Regions from separate parts of the Homo sapiens genome. Here region 1 is linked to region 2. Evidence: fine-mapped expression QTL. A gene starts in region 2. The other region holds a variant in brackets. All regions are shown on one strand. Distances are from middle to middle. Region 1 has its middle 18 kb from the start of LINC02648. Region 2 holds the start of PRKCQ-AS1 (PRKCQ antisense RNA 1).

Region 1 (10,274 bases), 21 kb after region 2:
TTCACTGTATACTTTTGTCCTCCTTTCTAACTGATAGAGACATGCCAACTGTGGGGAAATGGTAAATATGTTAGATTTTCTTCCATTTTCAGACAAAAACGACTCTTTAACTGAGGGTATTATGTTTCTGATGTGCTTTTTTAGTTGCTATTTTTATGTAGGTTAAAAAAAGACATTTGATGATGTCTCGTAAGTATTTTTCCAACTTATACAAAGCTTTTCATGTAATAAAAACATCATTACGACACTATCAAAGACAATGAGCTTATTAATGAGTGTCAGGGATTTTGCTAATTTTTGGAGTTTGTATCAGTTGTATGATCTCTGCCTTAAAAATCTGATTTAGTATTAAAATGCTTTTTTCAATAATTAGTTGTAGCAAATTTAAACTTGTGAGTTTATATATTTTTTTTCTCTTGGTACTATGATTCTGGAGTTGATGATGTAATAGAATCATAATGGTAATTTACTAAAAGCTTGAATCACTGAATCTCAAAGAATTAAACACCAAGCTGAATGGGAAAATCAAAATAAAAGTTACTGTGTATTTCAAGATTACTTGAGAGATTTTTTAAATGAGAAGCTAGAAAGCAGATATCTCAAGCGATTTAAGTAGAATTATGTGAAACAAATAAATAACTTTCAGTATACCATTTCTTTTTAAGTCAGAGAAGCAGAGAAACTAAATACATGGACATTGGATAGGCCATCTTTAAATGAGAAGTCAGAATTTATGTTTCCTAATGAAATTTAAAGATTTAATAGAGATATTTAAATTCCAACTAAAATTATTTCTGTAGGCAGAGCCTATCACAATTGCTGAAATTATAGCTAGGAAATTAGCAAATGCCCTATCATACAGTAATTTATCTTTCCATTTTTTTGATGATATGGAAAATGAAACTTTTTAATCTTTAAGTTTCCATTAATTGATTGCATATTATAGAACTTTTATAAATATGATTCTTACATTAGACTATGAGGTAGATATTATATCTTTGTTTTACAGAAAAGAAAATTGAGGATCAGAAAATACGCACAATTTGCAAAAACCATGGGTGAGTAGATGGCAGAGTGTAGATTTGAAAGCAGTGTTGACTTTAAGCCTGTGCCTCCAGTAACCTTCCCATGATACACAGTCACCATTCAAAGAATATTTGTTGAGGGAGTGATTTTTTTTAACAGGATTAAAAATATAAAACAAGAAGGAGGAGGTATGAGGCAGCTATCTAAATCCATCCTTCCGCTGCAGATTTTAAAGCCTTTTTCCTTTTCCATCTTGCCTGCCTAATTATTTTATCATTTTAACACATTGATATATTCAGTGACTAATCCTTTACTGCCTTGCAAATATGTTACAAGCATTTTCTAAGTCCTAGAATTGAAAAGTAATGATTACTTAAAAAAAAAAAATCAGTGACTTCATTCAGGAAAATCCACTGGTATCCAGGCCGGTGGATTCAGGCTCAGCAGTAAGGTCTTGCTTTTTGTCTTCTTTGCTTTCTTCTCTAAAACATTTTTTCAAATTGAGAAATTTTAAAAACCGTGTCTATTTATGGTGCACAATATGATGTTTTGAAATATGTGTACATTGTGGAATGGCTACATCAAGCTAATTAACATGTACATTACCTCAAACAGTTTTCATTTGTTTGTAGTGAGAATATTTAAAATCTCTGAGCAATTTTCAAGTATACGACACGTTGCTGTTAACCAGAATCACCATGTTGTAGAATGGATATATTGAACTTGTTCCTCCTGTCGAACTGAAATTTTGTATGGTTTAACAATCCCCTATTTCCCCCCCCACCTCCAGTCCTTGGTAACCACCATTCTACTCTCTGCATCTATGAGTTTGACGTCTTTATGTTCCACATCATGAGATGTTTTGAGATAATGTGGTATTGCTCTTCCTCTGCCGGCCTTATTTCACCCAGCATAATGTCCTCCAGGTTTATTCATGTTGTCAAGAATGATAGATTTTTCTTTTCTTTAAGGCTTTACTTATACCACATTTTCTTTGTCATTTATCCCTTGATGGACAGAGGTTATTCCATATCTTGGCTATTGTGAATATTGCTATAGGGAACATGGGAGTGCATATAGCTCTCTGACATCCCAATTTTTATTTTATTTCCCCTTCTTTTAAGCATTTCTTAAAGTTCTCACCTTCACCTTTTATTATTCGAAAGAATTGTGAGTAGCAGTTGTGTGGTTCAAGAGCACACTGCAGTCTTCCTTGTGTTCATCTATATTATCTGGGATATTTTGTTAGTTCTGGTCTGCAAGCTTCAAGGCTTATTGATAGTTTGAGTCACCAAATAGCCAATAAGACCTTATGGGTTATAGAATAAACATTCAGACTCCTTTTTCTGGTCTTTATCATCCTTCGTAGTATAGTCCCAGTCTATTTCTTTAAATTTATCTCCCTCTATTTCCATAAATATTCTCTATCCTAAACTCATTGCCTAATTAATTCTTGAACATGCCACATGCATTCCCATGCTGCACTTTTGCTAAAACCAATCCTCAGCCTGGAATTCCCTTTCTACTCCTCTGCCAATCCAATCCTTTTTTTGCACATCCAATTCAAGTTCCACCTCTTCCCTAAAGATAGTATTTTTTTCTTGGTGGCATTTATTTAGTTTTCAGAATATGCAATTTATATTATTATTATAGCTTTTGCTCTCAGATCTTTTTTGCTATAAAAATATTTATTTATTTTTATTGATACACCATAGCTGTACATATTTTTAGGGTACATGTAATAATTTGGTACATTCATATAATCAAATCAGGGTAATTGGGATGTCCAACATCTTAAATATTTATCTTTATGCTAGGAATGTTCAAATTATTATCTTCTAGTTATTTTGAAATGTGCAATCACTTCATGTTAATTATAATTAACCTACTGATGTATCAAACACCAGGTCTTATTTCTTCTAAGTGTGTGTTTGTACCTGATATGGTTTGGCTCTGTGTCTCTAGCCAAATCTCATGTAAAACTGCAATCCCCACAGGAAGGGCCTCATGAGAGGCAATTGAGTCATGGGGGCAGACTTCTCCCTTACTGTTCTCATGAGATCTGGTTGTTTAAAGGTGTGCAGCCCTTCCCCCTTCGCTCTCCTTCTTTTCTGCCACCATATGAAGACATGCCTGCTTCCCCTTCACCTTTCTGCCATGATTATAAGTTTCCTGAGGCCTCCCAGCCATGCCTCCTGTACAGCCTGTAGAACTGTGAGTCAATTAAACCCCCTTCCTTTATAAATTACCCAGTCTCAGGTAGTTCTTTATAGCAGTGTGAGAACGAACTAGTATAGTACCCATTAATCAACCTCTCTTCATCCCCTCAGCTCCCTACCCTCTTTTATCATTTATACTTTAGTCTCGCAAGTAGTTCTCTATTTTTGTCTCCTTGGTCATTCTCAACAGTACTTTTCAGACAGTACTCTGAAAAAAAAATCACCCAGAAAAGATTGTTGATATTGTTGTTGATAATGAGGATGAAACATTTGTCTTAATTTTTAAAGATGATGAACGAAAGATTGAACTTGGAGTTAAAACAAACACATTGTTTATTCTAAACTATACATAATGATAACAACTGTCAGCTAACTGAACCGCCTCCTCAGTGATATTGTATCAGTTGCTCCGCTGCTGATTGGAGTTGAAATCATTGTAAGGGATGGAAGACACCAGGAGGTAGAACTTAAGAGGTAGAACTCCCCATGAAACCTTCATTCATGGCTAACCCCAATAATTTAGCAGCGACTTTTCTTAGCTTGGATTTCCCCCCAAGAAAGCAGAACTTGAGATAAGAACTCTTATAGAAACAATTTACTTTGAGAAGTGATCTGAGAGAACAGGAATGGGGAACTGAGGAGAGTGAGGAGGGAAAGTGGGAATTCCAGCCGGTTTATAGATGCATTATTAGCTGGTTATGGCTGTGGGATCAACCCCAGGGAGGACTGTATTAGTCTGTTTTCACACTGCTGATAAAGATATACCTGAGACTGGGTAATTTATAAAGAAAAAGAGGTTTAATGGACTCACAGTTCCACGTGGCTGGAAAGGCCTCACAATCATGGTGGAGGGCAAAAGGCATGTCTTACATGGTGGCAGACAAGAGAGAATGAGAGCCAAACAAAAAGGGAAACCCCTTATAAAACCATCAGATCCTATGAGACTTATTCACTACCATGATTCAAGTATCTCCCACTGGGTCCCTCCCACAACACGTGGGAATTATGGGAGCTACAGTTCAAGATGAGATTTGGGTGGGGACACAGAGCCAAACCATATCAAGGGCAATCTGAGGAATGGTGTAGGATGTTCCTCAGCACTGTCCACCCAAGACACAGAAATGGAGTATTTCCCTGTTGGCTCTCAGCCCACTGGTCAAGGGCTGCCCCAGCAATTAGCCCACTGGCAGCATGGCTGGGCTGGTTCCTACAGAGATTCCTCACCACAGGAGCAGGACTGCCCCCAGATAGAAGGCAAAAGAGACAGCAGGAAACTGAAGTGAGGTGTTGTGAGGTTCACTTGTGCACAGGTGGTTCCTACAGCAGTGGCTGGAGCAAGACTGATGGGGCATAAATGCTGCCTGACACAATGTGCTTTCCCATAAGCTCATATAGGATCTCAGAATCCTTCTCAATGCAGCGCTCCTGGGAGCTATTATGAGCTCGTTGGAGTTGGCATATGCAAAATTAAGCAAACAATTTGCCAGCTCCAGAAGAGATGATTAAAAACAGTACTGGAGCAAGTTCTTGCATAAGCCTGTGTGAAAGTTACCAAGCATGGTTGATTGAACGGGTACTTTAAAACTTGTGGATTTCCTGTTTGGGTACTCAAGGGAGTCAGCACTAATTCTGGGAAGGTAGTGAAACATTGCCGTCTTTATACGACCAGGTAATGAAGCCAGGCCAGGGCGGTGGTCTTGCTAGGGGGACAGGTGCCATTCACAAGGAGGCTGCTGGTGCCTCAAGAGTCCCTTGCTGGATTCGCAGGCTCTGCATGGCAGCCACCTGAGAACACAGAGCATCTCAAGGGGTTTGAAGAGTTTGTGAGAATTGATTAAACATTTAAATTGGTGTTACATCCATTGATTAGATGTACATCAATTTACTCTCTTTATCCTTGGAATCTTTATCTCCCCAGTTAACACATACTACAAGCGTAGGCTACTAATTTCTTGATTACTCAGAGAAATTATCCAGTTGATAAATCGTATCTGTGAGAAATATAAAAGAGAAACAGATGAATAACAAAATTGATTATTCAGGATAACTAACATCTGTCCTCAAAAATAGTAGTTGAGATGCATGATGGGGTGTCCTTTAAATTAGTAGTCCCCAACCGTTTCAGCACCAGGGACTGGTTTCATGGAAGATAATTTTTCCATGGATGGGGTGGAGACAGGGATGGTTTCAGGATGATCCAAGTGCATTACATTTATTATGCACTTTATTTCTATTGTTATTACATTGTAATATATAATAAAATAATTCTACGACTCACCATAAAGTAGAATCAGTGGGAGCCCTGAGCTTGTTTTCCTGCAACTAGACAGCCCCATCTGGGGGTGATGGGAGACAGTGACAGATCATCAGGCCTTAGATTCTCATAAGAAGCTTACAACCCAGATCCTTCGCACACACAGTTCACGATAGGGTTCATGCTCCTGTGAGAATCTAATGCCATCACTGATCTGATAGGGGGCGAAGCTCAGATGGTAATGTGGGCCACGGAGAGCGGCTGTGAACACAGATGAAGTTTGGCTTGCTGGCCCGCCACTCACCTTCTGCTGTGAAGCCTGGTTTCTACCAGGCCATGGAATGCTACATGTCTGTAGGCCAGAGGTTAGGGATCCCTGCTTTAAATACTCATCAATGAGGTGTTTCAAAGAGAATTCGTCCCTGGAACTGTGTATTTGGTAACTAGCATAAGAAGACCTGCCGGTAGATTACAAGTTAATCCATAGCACAGCACAGAAGGAAGCCTTTAATTAGAGA[C/A]AGAGATATATTCAGCCACCGGTGTTGATCTTATCGTTCTGGGGAAAGCTCGTGGCAGTCACAAAATGTTGAAGACCCTGAGGCTGATGTGATGTGTGGCCAGATCTGCAAAATTGAGAGAAAACTTGAATATTTATTTATTTATTTATTTATTCTGAATTATCCTCATTGGTTTTTAAAAATGCACAGGTTTACTTTGAAAGCATTATTTGGCTTCCAGGCCAAATAGGAAAAAGGGGGCATTTTTTAACCTTGGTTTGGGTTTGGGGGCTTAGAGACAGTTTCTCTTTTAAGATATACAAACCTCCAATATACCTGCAAATAAGTGAGACCAAAACATTGTTTCTTCCTGTGAGTTGAAAAAAAATCTGGTGGGTTTACAGTGGGAGGAAATGATTTCTGGCTGCATGTGATGTAGGAAATGTGAAGACTGCTTCTGTACCCCATAACTGCTATGATTAAATAATGGCCTTTCTCTGCTTGGTTTTAAGATTTGGAGGTGACTTGATGATTTCAGTGTAGAAAAACAGTGCATAGTCTAAAAATGCTTATGGGAAAGTGGAAAAAGGCGTAGAGAAAATAAGAACAGTCTTAGTCACTAGAGAATCTGTGCAAACACGAGCTGCTTGGGGCTTCTCAGAGATGGCTACTTTTGTATCAATCACAAGGCTCCATATGCTCAATTTGTCAGAAACTCACCCAATCCCAGACTCATGCACATATGCACATCCCAGTTTCAATGTTTTATTACTTTATTTCATGTTAAGTGATTATTCTGCACAAATTTTCTCAGGAAGTAATTGTACACAATTCTAGGAGTTAAAGGTAGACATAAATAAGAGTAAAATCCTTTGATCTACAAGTGTTAATTAATTGTGCATAACTAAGCATTATCATGTGAAGATGGATGGAAGTTTCGTAGACCAGACATTTTTCATGCAGCTGTGATCAGTGAGTTTCTCCAGTAGCAAAGACAAACAATTTGTGTATGCAAACCAGTACAGCTAACAATGTCTTAATTGTTGTTATTTAAAAGAGGAGCAATTAATTAGCATTCATATAGCATACTAGCTTTCACTTAGTTAATTGTATAGATCCAAATTCCAAAATAAAAACAATGTGTATATGGCTCTCATTTGCCAAATTCAACATAAGCTGAGAATTTGTAAATTGAGAAGCTTGTCAGAGGGAATTCCCCTCTGGTGGGAATAATTCCTCTCTCACTAGTTAGTTCTCCCATTAGAGACCTTGACTATGGTGTAGAAATCTTTTTTCTCCATTTCTGAAATAAAATAGGAGAACTTTAAACAATAAGATAAAAGTAACTATGAAGAAAAATCCAACACACAAAAAGGTAACAATGGAGCACAATTCGAAGTTCAAATTCCTGATCCGCATAACATCTGAGCTGAGTTTGAATTGCCTCCCTCACTTGCCAAACAACTGGTCCTGCATTCTTCTCAAGGCTCTGACTCCCAGCTCATCTGCCAAGAAGTCTCTGGCATGTCCAGAGCTCACGAATGCAGCTGTTGGGCTTGGATTACCCTCACTGCATGATTTTCCAGATAGTCCCTTGGTGGTACTTCCTTGAGGAATCCCCACGGGAGTGGGCAGACACTGCGGATTGGTTTCAACTGCCTTCTTGGAGTAGAGGCTGGAATATTAAAAATGACATCTCCTAGATTCCCTTGCAGTTGGAGTTTGGGATGTGATTTAGGTTCTGCGAGCAGAAACATTTGCTCAGAACTTGGATTTGAGGTGGGCAACACACCTCCTTTCCATTGAAACGGATCCTAGTGAGCCGGCTTGGCACAGGGACCCTTGTGTGCAGAGGCAGGTTCATCCCTCAAGCAGCATATTCCCCGTGCCTGATTGCGGCAAAAGCAACCACTCTCTTGTCTGCCAGAGACTGCAGTATAATTTGAACGTTATTCCTAAAAGCACAGCCCAGAGTTTGTTTCTGCAGCGTTCGCAATGATTCTGGAAGGTGTTTACTAGCCTGTGATAAGAATCTCTTCTTACGTAAACTAGCCAGAGTGAAGTCTGTTCTTTGCCAGTAAACTTTTACCCTAATTGGTGTGATTATTCTCAAGAAAATGGGCAATCTGGATTGTCAATCTTATCAGATTACGTGTGAAAGCAACAAGGATATTTTGCCTTCAGAATATGGGTTACCTGTTTTTAACTGTGCCAGAAAGCTTAATTTAAAATAATATGATGAGCTCAGGGTTGAGATTTTCTTTTAAAGAAACAGGCAGAGGACCACAGCACTTCCCTGCGTGTGCTCATGTCTTGTAGGCATGGGGCTGATGCAGCTGGCAATCAGGCATGGTCTGTCCTCATGGGCTGCTGAATTACAGCACAGGTTCTGCCTTTCCAGCCTTCCCATTCTCGTGTGTGTGTGTGTGTGTGTGTGAAAATAGGACAATTCTGGGAAAGAGAGGATTGGAAAGAGGATGTTTGGGCAGATTCAAACCCCAGAGAGGCTTTGTCAGCCACAGAAGCAAGCCCTCCTCCCCTAAGGCTTAATGCAAACATCTCACCTGGGTGATTTCTAACAGGGATCACGCTTCTCACACAGGACCATTCTCTCATGGCCTCCAGACTCTTGATTTCTCTATCCCTCGTAACTCCAGAGCCATATCCCAGCAAGGCTCAGGGGGTAAATACGGTCTTACCTGGGAGGAGAATGCTTACAGACTCAATGAATTACAAGATGTTGCCAATGAATACCAGCAGAAACCAGAGAAGCATAGGTGAGAATGAATTTTTAAGGTCATAAACCAGGAAGAAAGGAACGCAATTTTAGGTGAGGCTGAATTTCTCAAATTAGGGGCACTTACCAGAGATTCTGGATTCAATGTACCAGCTCAAATAAGAGAGAGTGATTCTAAACGTTTTCTGGGAAGGTTGGCTGAAGCTTGCCCTCAGGAAGTAGCTGACCAGACTCAAGGACTCTGAGACTCCAGAGTGCCTCACGTTAAGGCAGAAGAGGGGACTAAAAGACTTCAGGAGCTGGGAGGACTTGAGTGGATCCTTCACACGGAAATTGCTCACTCACCTATATTAGGTCCGGATTGCTGCTGTAACAAAGTCACAAATGTAGTGGCTTAAGACAACACACATTTACTATGTGTCAGTTCTGGAGGTCAGAAGTCCTAAAATCAAGGTGTGGTCTGGGCTGTGTTCCTCCTGGGTACCCTGGGTTGCGGGAGTGGGGGAGCATCTATATCTATTTCTTGCCTTTTCCTGCTTTCTTTGACTCGTGTTGCCTTCCCCACCTTCAAAGCCAGCAGCATAGCATCTTCAAGTCCCTTTCTGTCTCTCTCTCTCCCATCTCTGCTCATCCCACTACATCTTCTTCTCTAACTCCAAAGCCCACTTCCTTCTTGTACATTGGGTCCACCCCAGTCATCCAGGATAATCACCCTATCTTTGCCCCAGTCATCCAGGATAATCACCCTATCTCCAGCGCCTTAACTTGATCACACCTGCAAAGACCCTTTTGCCATAAAAAATACATATCCACGGGTTCCGGGATTACAATAACATCTTTGGGGGACAATTATTTTTTTTCTATGACACCCTCTAATGATGTCCCCTAAGAGAGGCCAGATGGTTACTCCTTCATTAAGAGGTGGAGAAATCGGCCAACAAGGGGAAGGGGAGGGTCTTTACAGAGTGCTGAGGGGTGGGCCTCTGCACTGACGGGCAGAGGTGGGAATACTGTAGCTCAGAAGGGTCCTGAAGTCCCAGGGTGGCAGAGCTAGAGACAGAACCAAAGCGAGCATGGCGACCAGGAGTTTTGTTTTTGTTTTTGTTTCTTGAGATGGAGTCTCGCTCTGTCGCCCAGGCTGGAGTGGAGTGGCGCAATCTTGGCTCGCTGCAAGCTCCGCCTCCCAGGTTCACGCCATTCTCCTGTCTCAGCCTCCCAAGCAGCTGGGACTACAGGCGCCCGCCACCACACCTGGCAATTTTTTGTATTTTTAGTGGAGACGGGGTTTCACCATGTTAGCCAGGATGGTCTCGATCTCATGATCTCGTGATCCACCCGCCTCAGCCTCCCAAAGTGCTGGGATTACAGGCGTGAGCCACCGCGCCCGGCTGGTGACCAGAAGTTTCTGAGGAACCAAAAAGTTTCTTGGGCAACAGCCTATTTGCAGAGATGAGCATAAGGTACATAGATATGACCTAGATCTCAGAAATACGCTCAAGAGACAAAACTACCCTTGGCTGTTGGGAGAGAGAGAGGCAAAG
Region 2 (9,082 bases):
AATTATATCTGTAACTAATCTTCTAAAAAGCATCTGTCCCACACATTCAGGGTTATTAACACTGATGCCATGTTCACTTTATTCTCAACAACTACTCATTTCTGAATCATAAGGTTCCTCATGGAGGTGGAGATAACCCTACCTACCGGGACATTCTGTTTATGTTTTAGGGACTGTCCTTTCCATGGCTTCCCTAGTCCCTCAGGTGCTGTGTGAGTTGTATTTCCTCCATTAATTCTACACTAGAAAAAGGTGTATATGCTCAAGCTGGGATAGGAAATAAACAATGAACTCAGGAGTAGCATCAGCCCAGAGATCCCTGCCATTGGGCATTCAATGATTGGGTAAAAAGTTAACTATCAGCACCTTACACCAATTAGAAAGGCTACTATAAAGAAGATTTTTAAAAAAGCCCAGGTGCGGTGGCTCACGCCTGTAATCTCAGCACTTTGGGAGGCCAAGGTGGGTGGATCATGAGGTCAAGAGATCGAGACCATCTTGGCCAACATGGTGAAACCCCATCTCTACTAAAAATACAAAAGTTAGCTGGGTGTGGCAGCGCGTGCCTATAGTCCCAGCTACTCAGGAGGCTGAGGCAGGAGAATTGCTTGAACCTGGGAGGTAGAGGTTGCAGTGAGCTGAGATCATGCCACTGCACTCCAGCCTGGCGACACAGCGAGACTCCATCTCAAAAAACACAAAACAAAAGACAGCGTTGCTGAGAATGTGGAATAATTGGGACCCTTTCTACCACTGGTGGGAATGTAAAACGGTCCAGCCACTGTGGAAAACAATATGGCAGTTCCTCAAAAAATTAAACATAGAATTACCCTACGACCCCACAATTCTACTGCTGGGTACATACCCCAAAGAATTGAAAGCAGGACCTCAAACAGATATCTGCGTGTTCCTCTTCACGGCAGCATTATTCACAATAATCAAAAGATAGAAGCAACCATCAACAGATACAAGGATAAGCAAAATGTGGTATATCCATAAATGGAATAGTATTCAGACTTAAAAAGGAAGGAAGTCCTGTCCAATGCTGTCACATGGATACAGCTTGAGAACACTATGCTAAGTGAAATAAGACAGTTACAAAAGGATGGATACTGTATTCTGCTTCTGTGAGGTCCCTAGAGCAGTCAGAATCTTAGAGACAGGAAGTAGAAGGGTGGCTGCCAGGGGCTGAGAGGAAAGACGGATGAGGAACGAATGTTCCACGAGGACAGAGTTTCAGTTTTAGGAGATGAGAAGAATCCTGTGGATGGATGATGGCAATGGTTGCAAAACAATGTGAATATACTTAATGTCACTGAACTGTACGCTAGAAAATAGTTAAGAAGTTAAATTTTAAGTTATGTGTATTTTAACCACAATAAAAAAGTTAACTGGTAGGTCACCTGGGACTGCGGTTTAAAGCAAATGCTTGATGGTTAGACTAATCTGGATGGTCCAACTAACCTGACTCTACCACTGACTGGTTATAAGACCTGGACAAGGGGCTCTACCCCTTGAGCCTCAGTTTCCTCATCTGAAAAACTGGAATAATAATAATATCTAATTTATAAAGGCTTTTGGAGGTTAAATGAAGCAGTAATGCCTCTTACATATAAATAAAATTCTGAGTATGATATACAGCACATAAATTCTAAATAATAAAGACTCAAAACCATATTTCATTGGTTTTGTTGATGCTGATTATTATTATTATAATTAATACTATTAGCTTAATTCAAAAGCTAACATCAACCTACAGCAACCTGCAGAAAGATGTCCTGCCAAATACTTGCTAATTTAATCCAGGAGCAAAAATCTATGATTCTGGGCTTGAGTGAGCTTTCCTAATTTTAAAACTCTGATGCTCATTTTGTCCCCAAGAATGTGTTTAGATGACAGAGCAATCAGAATTTGACATGTATAAATGCTTGGCATGTTAAAATAATGAAAGATATTTTCACCATTGTAAGGAAACAGCTTTTAATCCATCTCTCTGGTTCAACATCACATTTTTCTATAGTTTCTCATGACTTCTTCCTTAACAATTGGAATAGGTATGAAAAAGCTGAGCTGAACACATAGCTGCTTAGAAATGAGCTGCTTAAAGTGTTAAAACAACAGAAACAGCAAGCATGAGTTTAATGCTATGTATGCCGTCACAATACTAATTTCTCTATTTTAAATTACAGATTACACACACACATACACACACACACGGAATCACGTCTATATTGCTGGGATTTTCATTATATAACAATATATCATTTTAAATGATTTGAGGCAAATTATTGAAAAAAATTAAAGACTGAACTCCATAAAAAGGAAATCACCTGAAATCAAATATAACCTTGTTAACAAACCAGCACATTAGCAACATTTTTAGGGGCAACAACATAATCAGCAACTCTAAGACATCAATCAAATGCATTAAAAACAGGAAGTACTAACTCTAATTCCTAATTTCCAGAAAGGCAAATATACCATAATTAAATAACACGTTATAAGGAGATTTGTCTGTGTAGGTCTACTTCTGAATCCCCGAAGTTACATACTTGTACCACAAGCCCATACTCTTGAAAGAAAATTCTGGACCCAGTCCACATGGAATTTTGGTTAAAACATCTAATTCATTGCAGAGAAGAATTTAGTCTTTTCCACGGAAGAGACAGCATGTGTTAGAATGAGAATACTTTATAGAAATGACCAGTGACAAGCCGGCTATGTAAGGGGGCTTCTGATGCCTGGCGTTAACAAGAGACAGAGAGTATTATTGTTGAAAGGGATCTTTGAGATTACAGAAGGAGCTGAGGTGTGAATAATCGAACACCATCCCCTTGTTGCCTGAAGGAGAAGTGAGACAGCAAAACAAATCAAATTTCCAGGAGCTGCACCGTGTATGGTGAGCGAAGACGCAATGAGGACATGTCTGTAGGAGAACAGAGGTAGAAGTTAGCTCCTCAAGTAACAGTTGCCATCCCGAGGCACCACAGCACAAGACAGTAGCGGAAATGAACATGACAACGCGGATGGTGGGTGACAAGAGTCTTGCCTGGATATTGACATTTTTAAAGTGTAGAAGAAAATCGCAGGTCACTGAAACAAAGGCTGATGGTGCCCAGCAGGTTACTCTTGAAATCAGAAACAGAAGTTCATGAGAGGCAAGAAGACAGAAACAACAACTGAAAAACTTAGAGTGGATCGCTAACTTGCAGGAGCTGTGCAGCTTTGGCTTTGCAGGTTTTAGAAGCTCTCCCTACGCCACGTCTTTAAATATATGTATGTTCAATCAGCAGGAGGAAGGGACTAACAAGAGCCTTCTGCGGTAAGCACCTGCATCAAACAATGGCACTGATCTCAGAGGGATTTTAAACAGCTGTGCATAAACTTCAAAAGTAATTTGCAACCATATTAGTAAATGTCACTCTTCTTCCCGCTAGACACAGCACTTTTAAAAGAGATTAAGCATCCGCAGTAAGCCTGCCATTTTACAAGGGTTACCAAAGATAAGTTAGGGAAAATATGAAGATGATGATTCACAAGGTCGGGGTGTGGGGTGGGGTGGGGGACCCAGGACCTTAGGAATAGGGCTTGTCTATCACACAGCCTCGGGCAAGAAGGGCCCAGTGGGGACCATGGCTTCTAGGGAGCAAACCAAGGGAAAAGAGCAACGGAGTGGACCCTCCAGGCTTCTTGCCTCTCTCACGGAGCCTCACGAATCCCAGTGGTTTAGAATTTTCTTTGGCAAAAGAAAAGGTCAAAGAGGCCGGAGTTGACAGAAAGCATGGGCGGACTTCTCAGATCTTGTAGGTGGTTCTTAAAAGAATTCAGCAGGCTTGAGGTGTGCTCTCAAAGGGCAACTGGAACGTCAAGGACTTGGACACCAGGCACAGATGGTTCATTTCCCATGGACAGGAAGAGGGCACGGAGTGCTCCCTCTTCCCTCCACCTTCTCCAGCCTAGTCCCCCTCAGCCTGTGCCACTCCTGAATCATCTTTTATAGCACCACGTCCAGCCCGCACAGGGGCAGGACAGCCCAGGGAACAAGGCAGTCCTGTGGCGCTCTCCTTGCAGAAATGACCGGAGTCTCCCAATCCAGCCAGCCCGTGGACCTCTCTTCATGCCCACGGGGGAGTGCACACGCCTGTAGCATTCAACAGTCACTCTCCCATTGATAACGGTGGCTCTCGAAAATCCAATACCACAAAGATACTTTATTGCACAAACTTTGCTTGGTTAACCTGGCCCTCAAAGCTGGGGAATAACCTCACTTGAGGCTACAGGAATGAGCACGCAGATTTTTCTTTTTTTTTTTTTTTTGGTATCTTTCAAAGACCTGCCTCCCCCTCCCCCAGGCCCTTGACCAGAAACTTGGCTTGTTTAGAAGCCTGAGCAATGGCACCCCCGTCCGTGCTCCAATACATTCCCAGAAAAGGGGTTATGCTCCCCTGTGGACAGGATACCATCTCCAGAAAACATGTTTCCTCACGCATTTTTTTTTTTTTTTTTTACCAAGAATACAAAAACTTTCCACCTTCTTCCCTCCCCGCAGGCCCCCTTTCGTTCAGGTGAGAAGGAAAAGGGAGAAGAAAGGAGGAAGCGCCCCCAGGCCGGCGGCCCCCACCCGGCTAAGGTCGCCAGCATCCCGCATCCCGTGCGACCTGCGTCCCAGAAACCCAGCGGGGAAATTCTTCCCGGTGCGCTCTTGCGCCCGCTTGGTTCCATTTCCTACTCCGCCTGCTCACCCGGCAGCCCTCACCCCTTCCCGGAGGCTCTCCGAGGGGCCCGGGTAGCCCTTCTCGCCACGGGTCTCGGCCCCTCCAGCCCGCTCCCTCCCGGCGGCGGCGCGGGGCGCGGGGCCCTACCTGGAGCGAGCACGGCGCCGCTGCTGCCCGGTGGCGCTGGGACTGCGCGGGGACTGCGCGGGGACTGCGCGGGGACTGGCGGGGCTGGCGGGGCTGGCGGGGCTGGCGGGGCTGGCGGGCCCGGCGCACTGCGGGTGCGCCTAGAAGGCGGTGCCCGCCAGGGGGCGCTCGCCAGCCTCCCCGCCAGCCCGGCCTCCCGGGACCCGGCACCTCTAGCCAGGGACGCGCGCTCGGTCCCCCGCCGTGCGCCCCCGGTCCCGCGCCCAGGCTCCCGCCCCTGGCCTCCTTACCAGCCACTTGTCGCCCAGCTGCGAACTGGAGCGGGAGGCGGCGGCCGGAGGGCCCAGGACAGCCCCGGGAGGGCGGCGAGGCGGAGCAGGAGCGCCCCGGCTCCGGCCACATTCTCAGAGTCAGGAAAAGGGGCGAGAGGCCACATGTCTCCCTCTCGCCCAACTGAAAACGAAACGGCGCTCCAGCAGATTGGGTGGAAAGAGCTGGGTCTCTTTTCTCTGTTTTTCACGCTAGAAAGGGCTTGTAAACATTGTTCCTTTTAAAATGACCTACCCCAGGCATTTGTTTGGGCACACTTCTGTCCTGGGGTCATCGTTCCTAGGTGGCTTCGGACCTGGGACTTTTCCTGTATCTGCACATTGTCGTTTTATACACAATTGCCAAGGTGGGACTGCTTTCAACTTTACTGTGCTTGAAGCTGCAAAGGTAATGTTGCCGCCGTGCGTGTCATTTTAGGACTTTTTATGCCTTGCGGGTAATACTAATGATGGTCACAGGGAGGATAAACGGGGTGGTTTCTTTTTCTATACTCCATGTAACTAATTTCTCATTCAGGTTAGAAAATTATATGTCTGGTTACTAATATTCTTACTGAATGGTTTCCTTGCAATGATGACACCAAATAATTAAAACGTACTTGATTAAGACTTTTGTTGCTGTAGTGTACTAAGATCAGATTAATCTGAGAAGTAAAATAGTAATTTTTTGTCCTTTTTTCTTTTCTTGTTTTGAGAGAGACATTAAAAACGATTAAAACAAAACAAAACAGGCCAGGTGCGGTGGCTCATGCCTGTAATGCCAGCACTTTGGGAGGCTGAGGCGGGTGGATCGCTTGAGGCTGGGAGTTTGAGACCAGCCTGGCCAACATGGCAAAATCGTGTCTCTCCTAAAAATACAAAAATTAGCTGGGTGTTGTGGCACGTGCCAGTAATCCCAGCTACTCAGAAGGCTGAGGCAGGAGAATCGTTTGAACCTGGGAGGAGGAGGTTGCAGTGAGCTGAGATCTCACCACTGCACTGCAGTCTGGGTGACAGCAAAACTCTGCCTCAAAAAAAAAAAAGGTTTAACAAAAGCCAAAAGTTGAATTAGCAGCCTTCTGATCATGGGAATGTAGGATGTCAACTAAAAAGAACCTCAGAGGTTGGGAAGGCAGATGAAAAACTGAGGCCCCGAAGTGTTTCAAGACTTGATTAAATCACTCAGGTCTGCACTAGGAAGCGAGTTATGATGATGCCCCTAATCTATATGAACCCAAATAAAGCCAAAACACACACACCTTTTAAGGATAAAACTATATTCCATTAAAATTAGCCCCGCATTTGTCAATATCTAACAGCATTGGACTGACCCTCAGGCCAGAGGCTGTAGCTCTTGGAAGATCCTAGCCAGGAGGTTTGAGAGTGGCCAGTACCTCGGAAGTGCTGGCTCACTCTGACATCATCAGAACCTGGCATACAGTAGGCGCTCATTGGGTATTTGCTATGGAAATTAGGCAGGAAAGTGCGTCTGTGTCTGGAAACAAAGAGGCAAAGCTTAAGCAGTGATCCCCATGCAGATTCTTTCTGCAAACTACAAAACAGAAGCTTCCCTAGTTCAGACTGCCATCCATCTGGCTCTTTCTCCAATTGTTTTTCAGCGGATCCTGTTACAGTGCAAAGAAGAAATGGCAAACGGATAACAGCTACTGTGCCTAGAAGATGGTAGATTCCTCACGCTCCATATCTGGGTTTCTCATTGACAATTAGGCACTGAAAGGAAGCTCATATGTCCTGTTAATTTAATCAGTAGTTAGTGGCTTTAGAAAAAGTTTCATATATACACCAGGTATGATAAGGACTTTTTTTTTTCTTTTTGAGACAGAGTCTTGCTGTGTTGCCCAGGATGGAGTGCAGCGGCGTGATCATAGCTCACTGCAGTTTTGATCCCCCAGGACTCAAGTTATCCTCTCACCTCAGCCTCCCAAATAGCTGGGACTACAGGCACACATCACCATGACCAAGCTAATATTTAAAAAGATTTTTTTGTAGAGACGGGGTCTCACTATGTTGCCCAGGCTGGTTTAAAACTCCTGGGCTCAAGTGATGCTCCTACCTCAGCTTCCCAAAATGCTGGGATTATCGGGGTGAGCCACCATGCCCAGCCTGTGATGACTTTAGACGCACTACTCATATAATATTCATAATCTGATGTGATATGTATCATCATCATTATCATCTCTCTTTAACAGAAGAGACTAACAAGGCTTAGAAAGGTTATGTACCTCGCTCAAGATCCCACAATTACTAAAGTACCAGAACCAAGATTCAAACCCAGGTCAGGCTGGAGCCACCATCTCAAGAGCTGCTGAATAATTAATTCTCCTTTTTTTTTTTTTTTTTTGAGATGGAGTCTTGTTCTGTCACCCAGGCTGGAGTGCAGTGGCACAATCTTGGCTCACTGCAACCTCTGCCTTCTGGATTCAAGTGATTCTTCCTGCCTCAGCCTCCTGAGTAGCTGGGATTACAGGCATGTGCCTGCCACCATGCTCAGTTAATTTTTGTATTGTTAGTAGAGACGGGTTTCACCATGTTGGCCAGGGTGGTCTCGAACTCCTGACATCAGGTGATCCGCCCACCTCAGCCTCCGAAAGTGCTGGGATTACAGGCATAAGCCACTGCGCCCAGCCAATTCTCCATTCTTACATCGTACACTCAGTTTTCTCTTTCTTTCTCTTTTGGACAACTGATCTTTGAGGACTCTTGGCTACTCAATTGTCCTATAATCGTATAGTCCTACAACAGGAAACCCGTTAACCTGAAGATCAGATCTTTTAAAACAACATCCATCATATATCTACAAAATTGGGATTTTTTTATCGTAAAATTTCATCTAAAACAAAAAATTCACATCTGTTCTTGGTATCCATTAGGTGTAGTGGACACCTCTAGATATTCTTGATGCCAGCATCCTGTAGACCCGCCATCTCCTTTCCCAGGCCATGGGGTGTTTCTGTTTTCTATTAGACACTGTCTCTTAGTTATATAAACGTGGCTGCTCTCAGAAGTTCTCCACACCTTTGTTTCCTGGAAGAGGAAATGGCATTTCCTGGAGGGGATGACACGTGGGCGGTGAGGTTCCACTCACTACGTTAAACACACCCTAACTTTCAGCTGTGTACTTCTTTTCCTCTTTCAGGTTCTGCCCTGATGTTTCCTGGAATAATGCTGAGGACTGCCTTTCGGGTAGCCGCCCTATTCAGTTCACTTCATCTCGGAAATACCTGACCCCTGCCTTGGATCCAGCGGCCCTCCTGAGAGCTGAGGAAGGAGGAAATCCTATGTGTCTGCTCCCGGAGCTGCCACAACCCATCTTCCCACAACTCGGAACTTGGAAAAAGGAACCCAGGACACGACTTTGCTTTTCTTTTGGACCTAGTTGGTGATTATACTCTGTCTCCCATGGAGACCACGTCTTGCATCCTTCCTTCTATATGGGATTTAGGATAGAAATTAAAAAGAAAACATATTATTTTGAGTCTTGATTTGGAGAAAGGTAGTATTCAGGAGGAAGTAGGCTATGATACACATAGAAAATTTGAGGACAGTGTTACTTAACAAGGACATTTCTGTCTCTGCAGAAGTCACAGCTTGGAGGAAACCAGTTTGCACTATTTGATGAGGAATTTGGCCACCAAACCACTGATACTTTCCCAAAGGTTTGGCAGAAATTGTTTTTTGAGTGGCTCACCAGAGTACCCAGAAGAATCAGTATGGAATTAGAGGACAGTGGCCTACCCTAAATAAAGACATGAGTGATGTATAAAGTCTAGTGTCAATTTATTCAGAAAATATCAAAATTATTCTGGGAGCTATGGGTCAAAGTTGATAGGCACAAACAAACAAAAACGAAAGGTATTTTAAATTCACAGCTTGGATAAGTAAAAGGGAGAT

What was found.
Region 1: its variant is fine-mapped to the expression of PRKCQ-AS1 in whole blood (INTERVAL, PIP 0.94).

The regions. Positions count from the first base shown.
Region 1 is chr10:6,595,837-6,606,110 of GRCh38, forward strand. No RefSeq gene overlaps it. Among named protein-coding and RNA genes, the nearest start is that of LINC02648, 18 kb to the right of the region's middle. The variant C/A (reference allele first, on the strand shown) is at 6,018.
Region 2 is chr10:6,575,349-6,584,430 of GRCh38, forward strand. It overlaps PRKCQ-AS1 (PRKCQ antisense RNA 1), which reads left to right and starts at 5,077. Exons shown (of 2, transcript NR_036503.1): 1 at 5,077-5,579; 2 at 8,328-9,082. PRKCQ (protein kinase C theta) reads right to left here and starts at 4,928. Exons shown (of 18, transcript NM_006257.5): 1 at 4,863-4,928. RefSeq lists silencers at 4,930-5,179, 5,190-5,339 and an enhancer at 8,139-8,433.